2 linked regions of the Homo sapiens genome follow. The protein of the gene in region 1 interacts with the protein of each later gene in a pairwise test. Each region holds a gene or a part of one and is shown in the gene's direction. Other genes may lie near its edges.

Region 1 (7,695 bases):
TGTAGAGCCAGAGGATGCTGGAGAAGGAAGCCAGGGGGCCATATGGGGAAGGGCCCTGCAGGCAGGAGCCATAGTACCTGCAAAGGCCCTGAGGCAGCAGCACTCCTGGCCAGGCCAGCATGGCTGGGGCAGACCATGAAGGGGAAGAGGGACTAGTGGCTCCCCCCATTTTCAATGTATGATTTTTTTCATTTTTTTTTATTTATTTATTTTTATTTTTATTTTTATTTTTATTTGTTTTTGAGACAGAGTCTCGCATTTTCACCCAGGCTGGAGTGCAGTGGCGCCATCTCAGCTCACTGCAAGCTCCGCCTCCCGGGTTCACGCCATTCTCCTGCCTCAACCTCCCGAGTAGCTGGGACTCCAGGTGCCCGCCACCACGCCCGGCTAATTTTTTGTATTTTTAGTAGAAACAGGGTTTTACCGTGTTAGCCAGGATGGTCTCTATCTCCTGACCTCGTGATCCGCCCGCCTCGGGCTCCCAAAGTTCTAGGATTACAGGCGTGAGCCACGGCGCCCGGACTTATTTTTTATTATTTTATTTTTTTGAAGTCAGAGTCTTGCTCTGTCGCCCAGGCTGGAGTGCAACGCTGTGATCTCGGCTCACTGTGACCTCTGCCGCCCTGGCTCAAGCAGTTCTCTTGCCTCAGCCTCCTGAGTAGCTGGGGTTACAGGCTTGAACCACTACACCCAGCTAATTTTTGTATTTTTAGTAGAAATGGAGTTTCTCCATGTTGACCAGCCTGATCTTGAACTCCTGACCTCAAGTGATGCACTCGGCTTGGCCTCTCGAAGTGCTGGGATGACAGGTGTGAACCTCAGCACCTGGCCTCATTTTCATTTTTTATTTTATTTTATTTTATTTTTAGACCAAGTCTCACTTTGTCGCCCTGGCTGAAGTGCAGTGGCACAATCTCGACTCACTTCAACGTCTGCCTCCTGGGTTCAAGTGAGTCTCCTGCCTCAGCCTCCAGAGTAGCTGGGATTACAGGCATCTGCCACCATGCCCAGATAATTTTTGTATTTTTAGTAGAGATGGGGTTTCATCGGCCAGGCACGGTGGCTCACGCCTGTAATCCCAGCATTTTGGGAGGCCAAGGCGAGTGGATCACGAGGTCAGGAGTTCAAGACCAGCCTGGCCAAGATGGTGAAACCCCATCTCTACTAAGAATACAAAAATTAGCTGGATGTGGTGATAGGCGCCTATAATCCCAGTTACTCGGGAGGCTGAAGCAGAGAATTGCTTGAACCCGGGAGACGGAGGTTGCAGTGAGCCAAGATCACCCCCCTGCACTTCAACCTGGGCAACAGTGAGAGACAACATTTCAAAAAAGAAACAACAACGTAAAAAAGATGGGGTTTCACCACGTTGGCCAGGCCGGTCTTTAACTCCTGACTTCAAGTGATCCTCCAGCCTCAGCCTCCAAAGTGCTGAGATTACAGGCGTGAGCCACCATGCCCAGCCCTCATTTTTATTTTTTAGAGTCAGCATCTCCCTCTGTCATCCAGGCTGGAGTGCAGTGGTGCAATCACACCTCACTGCAGCCTTGAACTCCTGGCCTCAAAGAATCCTCCCACCTTGGCCTCCCAAAATGCTGGGGTTCAGACATGAGCCACAGCACCCACTATTTTCTGGGACAATTGGGACAGAGGCTCGATCACAAAGGGTCTCTGGGGAGGAGGAAGGGATGGGTGTCCTTCTGAGACATTTGAGTGTTTACAGCGTGCGTTTACCTTTCACCAGGTGGCCTTGGATTGGTGGGCCACCCTGCGGGCTTATCCTCCTCCCCTTGGATGGTGTCTCCCTGTGTCCCTGTGGGGGCTGTCGTTTACAAGTGGAGCTGGGCTTTCTGGTGCGGTCCAGCCCTGGTCCTGCCTAGCTCACAGTGGGAAGGGGCTGCAGGGAAGATGGGAGGGGGGAAGGAGGCTGGGGACAGGCCTCTTCTGGCCCTGGTGCTCAGAGAATTCACAAGGACCTAGGAAGAAGCCTGGACTTGTTTTGGCCTTTGGACCTCAGGAGAACCTCAGCGGAGGCTGGGAGCCTCGAGGGGGACAGCAGAGGCAGGGGAACGCTGGGGCAGCTCTTGACAGCCCCAGGGAGACCCAGGCAGCTGAGTCCTGAGCAGGGGCGCCAGAGGTCCAACAACACCGGAAAATCAGAAAATGAGGCAAAGCAGCCAGGTGCGGTGGTTCACGCCTGTAATCCCAGCACTTTGGGAGGCCGAGGCTGGCAGATCACTTGAGGTCAGGAGTTCGAGACCAGCCTGGCCAACATAGCGAAACCCCATCTCTACTAAAAATACAAAAATTAGCCGGGTGCAGTGGCGGGTGCCTGTTAGCTCAGCTACTCGGGAGGCTGAGGCAGAAGAATAGCTTGAATCTGAGAGGTGGAGGTTGCAGTGAGCCGAGATCGCGCCACTGCACTCCAACATGGGTGACAGAATAAGACTCTGTCTCAAAACAACAACAACCAAAAAAAAAAAGAGGAAAGAAAATGAGGCAAAGAAACCCTGGGCTATCTCTAAGTCTCTAGTCTTTTGAGCCTGATTCCTTCCCTGGCAGCTGTGTCCTGAATTTGAGGAATGAGCCCCTGGGGGCAGGATTGGCCCAGGAGCCTCAGGCTTATCTCAGAACAGTGGAGCTAAGATGAGAGTCCCTGGGACGGAGCGGGGGCTGCGGTTGCCTGCAGGCTGGAGGAGCATTTTGAGCTGGAAAAGGCACGAAAGCTGGGGGGAAGGCACATATGAGAGAAGGCCTGAAAAGCAAGGCTTCCCACCAATTCACACTCACACTTCCAGGCTGGGCCCCTTTGGTGTCTGCAGCCCTTTCTGCCCCTGTCCCTGTCACTTCCTTAGAAAGGCCTGCCCTGACCACGCTCTGAGATTCTCCAGTAACCTTCTTCCATTTTCTTTTCTTTACTTTTTTTTTTTTTGAGGCAGAGTCTTGCTCTGTCGCCCAGGCTGGAGTGCAGTGGCGTGGAGTAGCTGAGATTACAGGTGCGCGCCACAACAGCCGGCTAATTTTTGTATTTTTAGTAGAGATGGGGTTTCACCATGTTGGCCAGGGTGGCCTAATTTTTGTATTTTTAGTAGAGACAGGATTTCACCATGTTGGCCAGGCTGAACTCCTAACTTCAGGTGATCTGCCTGCCTCGTTCTCCCAAAGTGCTGAGATTACAGGCGTGAGCCACTAGGCCCTGCCATAATGCAATTTTTTTTTTTTTTGAGACGGAGTCTCGCTCTGTCGCCCAGTCTGGAGTGCAGTGGCGCGGTCTCAGCTCACTGCAAGCTCTGCCTCCTGGGTTCACGCCGTTCTCCTGCCTCAGCCTCCCGAGTAGCTGGGACTACAGGCGCCCGCCACCACGCCCGGCTATCTTTTTGTATTTTTAGTAGAGATGAGGTTTCACCGTGTTAGCCAGGATGGTCTTGATCTCCTAACCTCATGATCTGCCCGACTCGGCCTCCCAAAGTGCTGGGATTATAGGCGTGAGCCACCGCGCCCAGCCCATAATGAAATTTTTTTAAGAGACAGGATCTTGCTCTCTCGCCCAGGCTGGAATGCAGTGGAGTGATCATAGTTTTATTTATTTATTTATTTATTTATTTATTTATTTATTTATTTATCTGAGACAGTCTTCTTGCTCTGTCACTTGGGCTGGAGCACAGTGGCCCGATCTTGGCTCACTGCAACCTTCGCCTCCCGGGTTCAAGCGATTCTCCTGCCTCAGCCTCCGGAGTAGCTGGGACTACAGGCGCGTGCCACCATGCCCGGCTAATATTTGTATTTTTAGTAGAGACAGGGTTTCACCACGTTGGTCAGGCTTGGTCTCAAACTCCTGACTTCAGGTGATCTACCTGTTTCAGTCTCCCAAAGTGCTGGGATTACAGGCATGAGCCACCGTGCCCGGCCTAATGTAATATTTTAAAAACTAATGCAAAAGAATTTCTGATGAGCAATATATAAAGACTTTAAATAAGCTGGTCATGGTGGCTTGTGCCTATAGTCCTAGCTACTCAGGAGGCTGAAGTAGGAGGTTCACTTGATCCTGGGAGGTCGAGGCTGCAGTGAGCTATGATGGCACCAGCCTGGGTGACAGAGTAGACTCTATGTTAAAAAAAAGAGGCCAGGTGCGGTGGCTGATGCCTGTAATCCCAACACTTTGGGAGGCTGAGGCAGGAGGATTCTGGGGTCAGGAGTTCGAGGCCACACTGGCCAACATGGGGAAACCCCGTCTCTACTGAAAACACAAAAATTAGCTGGGCATGGTGGTGGGCGCCGGTAATCCCAGCTACTCAGGAGGCTGAGGCAGGAGAATCGCTTGATCCCAGGAGGCAGAAGTTGCAGTGAGCTGAGATCGCGCCATTGTACTCCAGCCTGGGCGACAGAGCGCGACTCCATCTCATAAAGAAAAATATTTTAAAACATTTCTAAATGTTGATGTCTGAGTTTTTTTTGGCGTCCCTGTAAATTTTGTTTTCCAGGCGAGAACTTTACTGGCCTCAACCTATTCCGGGTCCCCAAGTGAATGAAACCTAAGTTTGGCCCCGCCCACAGAGCAGCAGGCCACGCCCCTCGACATATCAGCCCCGCCCCCAGGACGCTAGTCGCGCGGTCGCTCTGTGCCTGCAGACCCCCGCCCCGCGCGCTCCTCGCGTCACTTCCGGGGCGGTGGTGAGAACGAGGCTCACTTCCGTCCGTGGGGGGAGCTGCGGCGGTGGCGGTGCAGGAGGCCGGGCAGGGGTGCGGAGGGACCGACGGACGCACGGGCGGGCGGCCGGGAGCCATGGAGCGCGGCCCTGGGGCCCGGGGGCGCGGGCCGGGGTGGTGAGTGCCGGGCAGGGGCGGGGGCGGGCGCGGCCGCGCGGGGTCCCGGGCCGGGCCTCGAGGGCCTGACAGCCCGGTTGGACGTCCCCGAGACCCCTGCAGTCCCAGGGCTTCCGCGGGTCCTGCCCGAGGAGCCCAGAGCAGGGGCGCGGACCGCGGATGAGCGTCTGTGATTGGGAAAGCCCTGTCCCCATCCATTCAGCCCTCCGGCGTGGGTTGCGCTCCCACCCTCCTGCGGACGCGGCCCTTGCCTTCGGGGAGCACCCGTCCGAGCCGCGGATTCCGCTCTTTTGCCCCGAAACTGCCCCCAGTCCGACAAACGCTTCGGCCTCTCGCCCCCCAAGGCAGCTCCCAGGGGCCCTCCCGAGCCCTGCTTCCCAACCAGCTCCCAGTCGCTGTTTCCCTTGTCAGGCTTCTTCCTGCCACCCTGACTCCTGGGCGGGCTTCCCGGCCTCCGCTCGCGTCCGTTCTCCGGGATGCAGCCCTTCTCCTATGTTGTCCATCGCTTGCTCGGGACTTCTTCGCGGCCCCGCCATTTCTCCCAGGATGAAGTGCAAACTCTCGGGGGCGCGACCTCACCCGTCCCAGGCTCTCTCTTAGGACCCTTCTGCTCACTTCTTCCTCCCAGGGTCTGCTCTAGCCAGGAGCCTGCTCTGTCACCTCGGATTTTGCTCCTGCTTGTCCCTCTGTCCCATCCCCCTGTCACCTGGCCCGTTTGTCTGCCCTCTGATATGGCCGCGCCTCCCCCCAGGCGGGTTTCCCACCCTGACTGGTTGAGTGAGGTGCAGTCACCGTCTCCCATATGTAGGTCATCTTCCAGTATTTTGGCTGCTCGGTTGCTTGCTGGTCCTCAGAACACCTCTAGCTTGCAGAGGGTTGCCCAGTTAAGTGCGTGGGAACGGAATTGGTGGGATTCAGGGTGTCAAGGGTGTGTGCCCAGTGAGTGAGGCGTCTGGGTTTGCACTCCCCAGTCCACGCCCATTAGTGACACTAGGGAGGTTCCAGGTACCTGTGGCTGGAGAGGAGAGGAGACTAGACTTTCCCTTCCCTGTCAAAGCTGGCGGACCTTGGGGATTCTTTTCCTCCTGTGCTTCCTCCTTAATTCTGTGCTGCCTACCACCTGCCCATTCCTTTAGTGAGTGGCAGGTCATGGTCCTGCTCTCATAGAGTTTCTGGTTTGGAGGTGGGGGGAGATCTGGCCAAACGTGTGAAAAATACAAGCTGTGGAAAGAGCGTGTAAGGGGTCCTGTCCCAGCTTTGAGGACTCTGAGAGCGTTGGCAGTGAGGTGCAAAGGGTGGTTGGGTTGGGCAAGGCTGTCTAGTGAGGTTGGGGAAGGGAGTTCCTGGCAGAGGAGCAGAGGCAGGAAGGGGCAATTTGGCTTGTCTTGAGGGAGCCAGGAGTGGCAGGGTGTGAGATGAGTGAGTCTGGAGAGGTCGGCCTGAGCCGGAATGCGGACCTGGCAGGCTGTGGGGAGGGCTTTGATCTCTATCCAGGGAATAATGGGAGGCCCCCAGGACACCCCAAGAGGGAAGCGGCTCCATTGCATTTGTGTCGTGAAAGATTGTTTGGCTGCTGGGGGAGAATGTCCTGGAGCAGGTGATCAGCAAGGAGGGAGGCTGTTGCTGTGGCTCTGGTGAAAGGTGATGGAGGCAGGGACCGGGCGGTGGCTGATGGGAGACAGGCAGAGCCACCGGGCTGGTGATGGACCGGCTCAGATCCAGTGGGTGGAAGGAGGTGTCAAGGATAACATCTTTGTTTCTGGCCTGGATAGTGGGGCCCTGGCCACCTCGGTGTGCCCCTTCGTCTCCGGGGTCTCCAGGGGCCTGCTGCTGTCCACTGGGCTCTCAGGACCCAGCTGCATGATGCCACCTAAACTGCAGGGCCCTCCAAGTCCCCAGCACCAGCGGGGCAGCACCGGTAGGGCCTGGACCTCTTTGAGAATATGTTGAAAAGCTGACATCAACCTCGACGCTGTGGATGTTGGGCCTGATCATTCTTTGGGGTGGGTCTGTCCTGGGCACTGCAGGGTGCTAAGCAGCCTCCACCCAGTCCCCAGTGGTGACACCCAAAACTGTGTCCAGACATTGACAGGTGTCTCCAGGAGGGAGACTCGCCTCCATCTGAGAAGCAGAACCAGCCTGACAGTCCACCTCCCGGCTGAAAAGTGCTTGCATGTGCGATTTGCCTTCCGCCTGGGAGTCTGGGGGCACTGGGATGCCATCCTTGCCCCACCCTGGCTTTCAGAGCTCTCTCCTCTCCTCCTCGTGTGCCCATGAGTCCGGCTCACAGGAACGTGGGTCTCACATCAGGTCCTGAGGGAGCAGGTGTGTTTCTGGGCCTGAGGCTGCTCCTTGGTAGTGAGGGTGTCCCCACGAGCCGTGTCTGTGGCGCCTGCAGCTGCCTGCATGTCCATCTGTGTCCACATCTGCCTTTGAGCCTCATCTTCCTGGCCCCACGGTTTTCTCATGCTGTGACCCAAAAGCCAAGCATTCCAGGGTGTTCTGCTGAAATTGAGTTGTGAGCGTGTCTCTCTCCTCGCTCCAGTCTGAAGGAGAAGCGTGGTCGGTAGATAGACGTCTCAGACCTTCGTGTTTTCTTCACGTCTGTCTGTTGGCAGGTCCTTACACTATTGTGGTTGCTTTAGCAACTTAGCTGTTGTCGACTTAATGTGTTTCATGACGTTCTGCAGCAAGGAAGAAGGTCCGAGTTTCCACTCTCAATCAGGCACCTTCGTTCCCCTCCCCCCTCACTTGACTTCCTGTGGGGTGTGTGGTGTCTGCACTTATAGATGAGAATGCTGAGGCCTCAGGAGGGCAAGGGACTCGCCCACGGTCACGGAACCCTAAGTCAGGGGTGGAGAAGGACCCCCT
Region 2 (6,966 bases), on another chromosome or scaffold:
GCCCAGTCAGTTATGCAATTACACTCAAGGGTGCATGCACTATTTGTGATGTTGTTTTGTAGGCATTCAATGAGGTAATACAAGACAAGTGCTTGGTTCAATGCTTGGCCCACAGGAAATACTTAATGAATTTTAGCTATTTCTATTACTATTATTTGCCTACATATAGGAATCCTCTTTTAGCCAAAAGGCTAGGTAGTGAAAGATTTGCTCATAATCTTGGATATAATTACCATATCATTCTTCACAGTATCTGAAGAGGCAGACTTCAGATAATAGCATTATCATTATTGAAATCTGGGAAAACACAGACACTAAAATATTTGCAGGCATGTTTCAATTACTCAAGTAGGTTAGAAGCAGAAAAACATATTCTTTATTTCCTGTATTTTCAACCCCAGGTTTAAATACGTCACTTTTACATGTTTTTAGTTTTTCAAATAACTAACTATAAAAAGGAAAACTGTTTTATTAAATAAAATATACAAAAGTAAACCAGACCACTCTAGAATCTGAGCAAAGGAAGTTTTGTGGGCTTCTCCTGGATACTTCTCCCCTTCCCCATCAACAGACAAGCTAGAAAAGGAGAAATAGGTTTGTTTGAACACTTCTCTTTTACAAAAATAAATAAAGAGGAACAAATATGTGGGCCACGTTTTAAAAATTGTATGTGTTTTTCCATTACTTATCGAGCAACTGCTTGCTAAGCAAGGCACTAAGTGACTTAAATGCACAAACTCATTGAATCCTTTCAACTCTGAGTAGAATGATTTTTATCATCACCATTTTACAGATAAGGAAACTAAGGCAGCTGCCTAAAGTCCCAGAGCTTGCAAATAATGGAGTGGAGATTCCTCTAAGAGGTCATGATTCCAGGATGAAACTCTTTAATCACTATCTTGTATAGTCACATTACTACACAGGTGGGCAAATAAAGAAAACAAGGACAGAAATGGACTATGATTTAACGTTGGATTTTTAACAGCAGTTAGGAATTTGCTAATTCAATACCACAGGATTAAAAGTTTTCCAACTAGGAAGCCCCAGAGAAAATGAAGACATATTTATTAAATTATAATAGGCCTTTAAATGACTGTGTGGACATGATCATACAACTTGACACGTTTTTTCACGGGTATTTCTCATGCAGTCCAGTCTGGATCCACAACATGCTCCTGAAGGGTGTGTGGCATGAAGAAGTCACTGCCCTGGAGAGCAGGGAACTGAGAGGTAACAATCCATGAGGGGTTTTCACTTTGCCCTTGCCCTTTTCCTCCTCCCTATTCCAGTAGACACTTGGCTCCGTGCTCATTTCCTCAGAAGAGGATGAAGCAGGGTGAAAAATGAAAGTTGCCTGACAGCTACTTCTCTTTCTGCTGTTAGTGCCCAAACCCAACCACAGAAAAGGAAAGAATTCTTGAGCATAGATTCTTGAAGGGAAACGATTTTCCCTTCAGGTGAACTGCTAATAATATTAACAATTGCTCTCACTCATGGATCCCTAACTATGCATTAGGCACACTTTGAAGCACATATCTGTGTACTCATTTAATTCTGTAAAAGCTTATGAGAGAGTTATTACTAATATTGTTAGAATGCTCCATGAAGATTTGTTTTTGTCTGATTTTATTTAGTGCTATATCTCTATTTATTTACTTATTTATTTTTGAGATGGAGTCTCGCTCTGTCGCCAGGCTGGAGTGTAGTGGCACGCTCTCGGCTCACTGCAATCTCTGCCTCCCGGGTTCAAGCGATTCTCCTGCCTCACACTCCCGCGTAGCTGGGATTACAGGCGTGGGCCACCACACCTGGCTGATTTTTGTATTTTTAGTAGAGATGGAGTTTCACCATGTTGACCAGGATGGTCTCCATCTCCTGACCTTGTGATCCACCTGCCTCGGCCTCCCAAAGTGCTGGGATTACAGGAGTGAGCCACCGCGCCCAGCCTTATTTACTGCTATATCTCTAGCGTTCAGAACAATACCTGGCAAAGATTAGGAACAAATAAATATTTATTGTAGAATCAATCTCCATCTAAAGGTGAAGGAGCTCAGGCACAGAGAGATTAAGTTACCTGCCCAAAGGCCCACAGCTGGTAGAAGACTAGGAGAGTTAGAGCACCCCCACCTGGGCTGGGAGAAGAGACAAGAGGATGGGAAAGCTGTGCTTCCCGAGTAGAGGAGATCTGGGACCCTCTCCTGGGACCCTCTTGTGCCTCCAGGGAGGTAGAAAGACCACAGAGAAGAAGTGGCTCTGTTGGGTACTGGGCAGGTGGAATCTCAGGCAGCGTTGTGATGAAACCACCACACTGGGGCAAGAAGGTAGCAAAATGAGAATGCTACAGGAGCTGCAGAGAGCTCCTGGCGTGGAGGCCATGCACACAAGGACAATGGATGCCTCTAGAGCAGCCTCTGTTGATCGGTGACCAAGGATCAAGTGGCTGCTCCTTCCCCAATCCTTGATGTGTTACTCTGCTTTCCTCCAGCCAAAACAACTGGTCGTAAAAGATAAAATTGTAATACAAAATGAGAAAAGTGTTATTTTTTGTATACTTGATTTTTTTTTAACTGAAGCAGTCTCGTATTATATATAGGCAGCATTATGTAAGGAAAAATATTAAATGTGTCATCAGAAGGCCTAGATTTTAATCCTAGCTTGTCCCAACAAAAATTCGCAGGCAATTTACCTAATTTCCCTATGTCTCAGTTTCCTCATTTATAAAAATAGGGATTAAAAATCATTGAGGTGAGGATAAAAAGATTTTTTTGAAAATATAAGTTAAAGCTGTCAAAGATAATAAATGCATTGTGTTAATTTTGTATAGCTCCCACTCCCATCCCATTTGCACTTGATTTTGACACACATGTATCCTTTTTTGGTGGGTAAAGGGCTACACTTGCGTCTTCTCTTTTTACATACTAGTATTTACATTTATTTTCATTTCTGACGTTTATACTAAGTGGATGTAAACATATTTTTCAAAATTAAAAGCACTTTAGAAATAAGAAATATTAAATGATTGATATGTTGCTATTGTTGCCTGTGGGAGTAATTTTCTGGAAGTTGAAAGCCAGCTGGTCATTGAAATGTTTCATGGATAATCCTCAGGCTCAGTAAGGCCCAGGCAGGCATTTTATTGGATCTTTTCACTGAGCTGTCCTAATATTATAGATAAAAATAATTCCTGCACTAAGAAGTGAAACAATAAATTTCTAAAATGTCAGGCATTTGTTACTAAATTGTAAAAGGATCACAAACAAGATGAATTGGAAACTTCTACACCAGGTTTACTTTAAACACTTTGGCTTTTCTGAGAAATGAGAGTAAATGAAATAAACCAGCAACAATGCAAATTTACAGTCCTTGCAAAAACGTGAACTATAAATTAGGGTTATTCTATCATCAGATGTATATTAGTGGTCATGACATGCCTGGCACTCCTCTTAGAACTGAGGAGACAATAGTGAAAAAGACAGTGAAGTGCCTGCCTTTACAGAGCTTACATTCCACTGGGAGAAACCAAAAACAAACAAGTTAAATACACCACATTGTTAGACACTGCCTCGAAGGAACATACAGCAGGTACAGGAGAGACTGTTTCTAAAATAGAGAAGCAAGTCATGTGCACATCTGCAAAGATGATTTCATTACATTCAGGTTTTCTTATTCTCCAGGAGCCTATGGTGTAAAACTGAAAATAAGTGAACATGTAACAGTGGGCATACATATGCAGCTATAACTTTGACTTTACCTTGTATACAAATGTGTTGGTTTATTTATACCCAGATATCCTGTATAACCAGCAGTCTTCGCAGGCTTGAACTGCCTGGCATGCATGTTTTATCTAAGAAAAGAAGGAAGAGCGTTAGGTAGAAGGAAGTTGCCTGTCCTCTCACTGGCTCGTGATTATCACTTACTCGTCATATAAACCCAAGGCACAGTCACATACCCAGGGATACAAGACACTGCAGACTCCCGAGAGACATAACACAGGTAAGTCATATTACTGAACTCCACATAGGTAATAAATGAGATATGCTTTACTCTTTACTTCAGAGTTTTTATTATTCTCATATCCTGTTTGTGACTAACTGTCTTGTGAGCTATTTTCATGATGGTGCTCACTCTGACCTTGTCTTACCCAGAACCTCTCCATATATGCGAATATGTGAAACTCAAATAGTCATTTTTAAGGAAATATAGGTACAGGAGATTTAAGAAGATCTCTTCAAGTGGATTTTAACATAGAAAATATAATCAATGCTAGAGGAAAAATCCTGTCTTAATCAGGGTTTGTTACTACTTCCAGAATTTTCCCAAGTGATTCTTCAATAACTTGGATTGATGGAGTAGAGAATATTATCTCATGGCTGTTCAATTTCTTTCCTTTGCTTTAAAGTTTAAGACTTTTACTGGTAATATTTTATATTATTTTAAGGCACATTTTGTTGAAGCATCTCCATGTTTTGATAAGAATTGCAACCTATCATCTTTTGGCTTCAGAGATGGTTTAAGGGATTTACCCCAGGCCAGGAATTTCAACTCACAGCTCCCAAAGGATATTTCAGTTATTCCTCTTGCTTTGGCTTTAATGTGAAACAGTCACTTAAAATGACATTTAGTTGATATTTGATAAAAAAAAAAAAAATAGAGCTTTCAGCTTGCTAATTCAAAGTTAAACATCCAGTGCTTGATTGAAATCAATATCTTACTCAGTCAACAACAATTCTTCTATTTCTCTATTGTCCTATAATTTAACTCCAACCTGGCAACTTTTCCAGAATTGAACTTGAAATGCCCAGGGACACTGTGAAATGAGGGAAATTAACATTCTTTACCATCAAATGTTAGGGGTAATAAAAAGCTGTTTTAATGTCAGTATATGCAAGAAGTTCCCCTGTGAACAATAGTATCTCACATGATTGCTGTCTGAATCCAATTTTTACATTTCAGAACACCAGGGTCTATATAATAGGAGTGTAAACATGCTCTAGGCCATTACATTTTGTATAAGTTTATTACTGGGCAAGTTAAGATCTGCATCTTAAACTCAAAGAAGAGCTATAGCAAATTCACAAGTAATCTTTGTTTTTATATCTCTAACTCAGATTATTGCGCAATTACTAAGCATGTAAAAAACTGTGTCTGGAATGCCCAAATATGTTTGAATTCTTGATGTGTCGTATTTAAGAGTAAGAGCTTACGTTGGCTAACATTTTGTATTGAACTGTAGAATGGTCAATACTTAATTCCTCATTTGTAAGTTTTCTATCTAACAAAATTATTCCAAAAGTTCTCTTTTTTGAACTAAAAATATTTCGGCTGAAGTCTTTATTAAGATGTTTAGTATAGGCATTGGATATTGATTAGCCTGTGTTGTCAGAGAGTTGAAATTGGATTGTTGTCATCTTTCTGGCACAGAGACTAGAATTTTTGAGACTATTTTTTACTGTGCTTTTACAGCAGTATACGGAATAATATATTGTTAAATTGTTTTATTATAAAAGTTTGTAATTTTTTCAATGATTATGTTAAAATTGCCTCTGGGATTGAATTAATCAGATGAAATAAATCAGCATTGTATTAGTTAGTTTTCACGCTGCTGATTAAGACATACCTGAGACTGGGTAATTTATAAAGAAAAAAAAGTTTGGCCGGGCGAGGTGGCTCAGCCTGTAATCCCAACATTTTGGGAGGCCGAGGCTGGCGGATCACCTGAGGTTAGGAGGTCCTGGCCAACATGGCGAAACCACGTCTCTACTAAAAATACAAAAATTAGCTGGGCGCGGTGGTGGGCGTCTGTAATCCCAGCTACTGGGGAGGCTGAGGCAGGGAGAATCGCTTGAACCCGGGAGGCGGATGCTGCAGTGAGCCGAGATTGCGCCACTGCACTCCAGCCTGGGCGACAGAGCAAGACTCCGTCTCAAAAAAAAAAAAAGAAAGAAAAAAAAAAAGAAAAAAATTTGCCGGGCGTGGTGGTTGGTGCCTGTAATCCCAGCTACTCTGGTGGCTGCGGCAGGAGAATCGCTTGAACCCGGGAGGCAGAGGCTGCGGTGAGACGAGATCACGCCATTGCACTCCAGGCTGGGCGACAAGAGTAAAACTCCGTCTCAAAAAAAAAAAAAAAAAAAAAAAAAGGGAGGGGGGCGGGCCGGGCCCGGTGGCTCACCCCTGTAAACCCAGCACTTTGGGAGGCTGAGGCAGGCGGATCACGAGGTCAGGAGATCGAGACCACCCCGGCTAACACGGGGAAACCCCATCTCTATTAAATATACAAAAAAATTAGCTGGGCGTGGTGGCGCGTGCCTGTAGTCCCAGCTACTCGGGAAGCTGAGGCAGGAGAATGGCGTGAACCCGGGAGGTGGAGCTTGCAGTGAGTGGAGATCACGCCACTGCACTCCAGCCTGGGCGACAGAGAGAGACTCCGTCTCAAAAAAAAAAAAAAAAAAAAAAAAAAAAAAAAAAAAAAAAAAAAAGAGAAAGAAAGAAAGAAAGAAAGAAAGAAAGAAAGAAAGAAAGAAAGAAAGGTTTAGACCAGGCACAGTGGCTCACACCTGTAATCCCAGCACTTTGGGAGGCCCAGGCAGGCGGATCACAAGGTCAGATGATCGAGACCATCCTGGCCAACATGGTGAAACCCCATCTCCACTAAAAAATAAAATACAAAAATTAGCTGTATGTGGTGGCGCACACCTATAATCCTAGCTACTTGGGAGACTGAGGCAGGATAATCGCTTGAACCCAGGAGGCGGAGATTTCAGTGAGCCCAGATTGCGCCACTGCACTGCAGTTCCACATGGCTGGGGAGACCTCACCATCATAGCGGAAGAGGAAGGGATGTCTTACATGGCAGCAGGCAAGACAGAACCAGAGCCAAGTTAAAGGGGAAATCCCTTATAAAATGATCAGATCTCGTGAGACTTATTTACTACCATGAAGTCAGTATGGGGGAAACCGCCCCCATGA

Evidence for each region. The genes of interacting proteins can lie anywhere in the genome.
Region 2: the proteins of ABHD17A (region 1) and HPGDS interact in binary tests that used the Homo sapiens proteins (3 or more experiments, as listed by UniProt).

The regions. Positions count from the first base shown.
Region 1 is NC_000019.10:1,882,481-1,890,175, reverse strand, and holds the start of ABHD17A (alpha/beta hydrolase domain-containing protein 17A), read left to right. Parts: upstream 1-4,679; 5' UTR 4,680-4,824; intron 4,825-7,609; exon of another isoform or gene 7,610-7,695. UniProt on the Homo sapiens protein: Hydrolyzes fatty acids from S-acylated cysteine residues in proteins. Has depalmitoylating activity towards NRAS. Has depalmitoylating activity towards DLG4/PSD95. May have depalmitoylating activity towards MAP6.
Region 2 is NC_000004.12:94,339,822-94,346,787, reverse strand, and holds the start of HPGDS (hematopoietic prostaglandin D synthase), read left to right. Parts: upstream 1-3,951; 5' UTR 3,952-3,993; intron 3,994-6,966. UniProt on the Homo sapiens protein: Bifunctional enzyme which catalyzes both the conversion of PGH2 to PGD2, a prostaglandin involved in smooth muscle contraction/relaxation and a potent inhibitor of platelet aggregation, and the conjugation of glutathione with a wide range of aryl halides and organic isothiocyanates.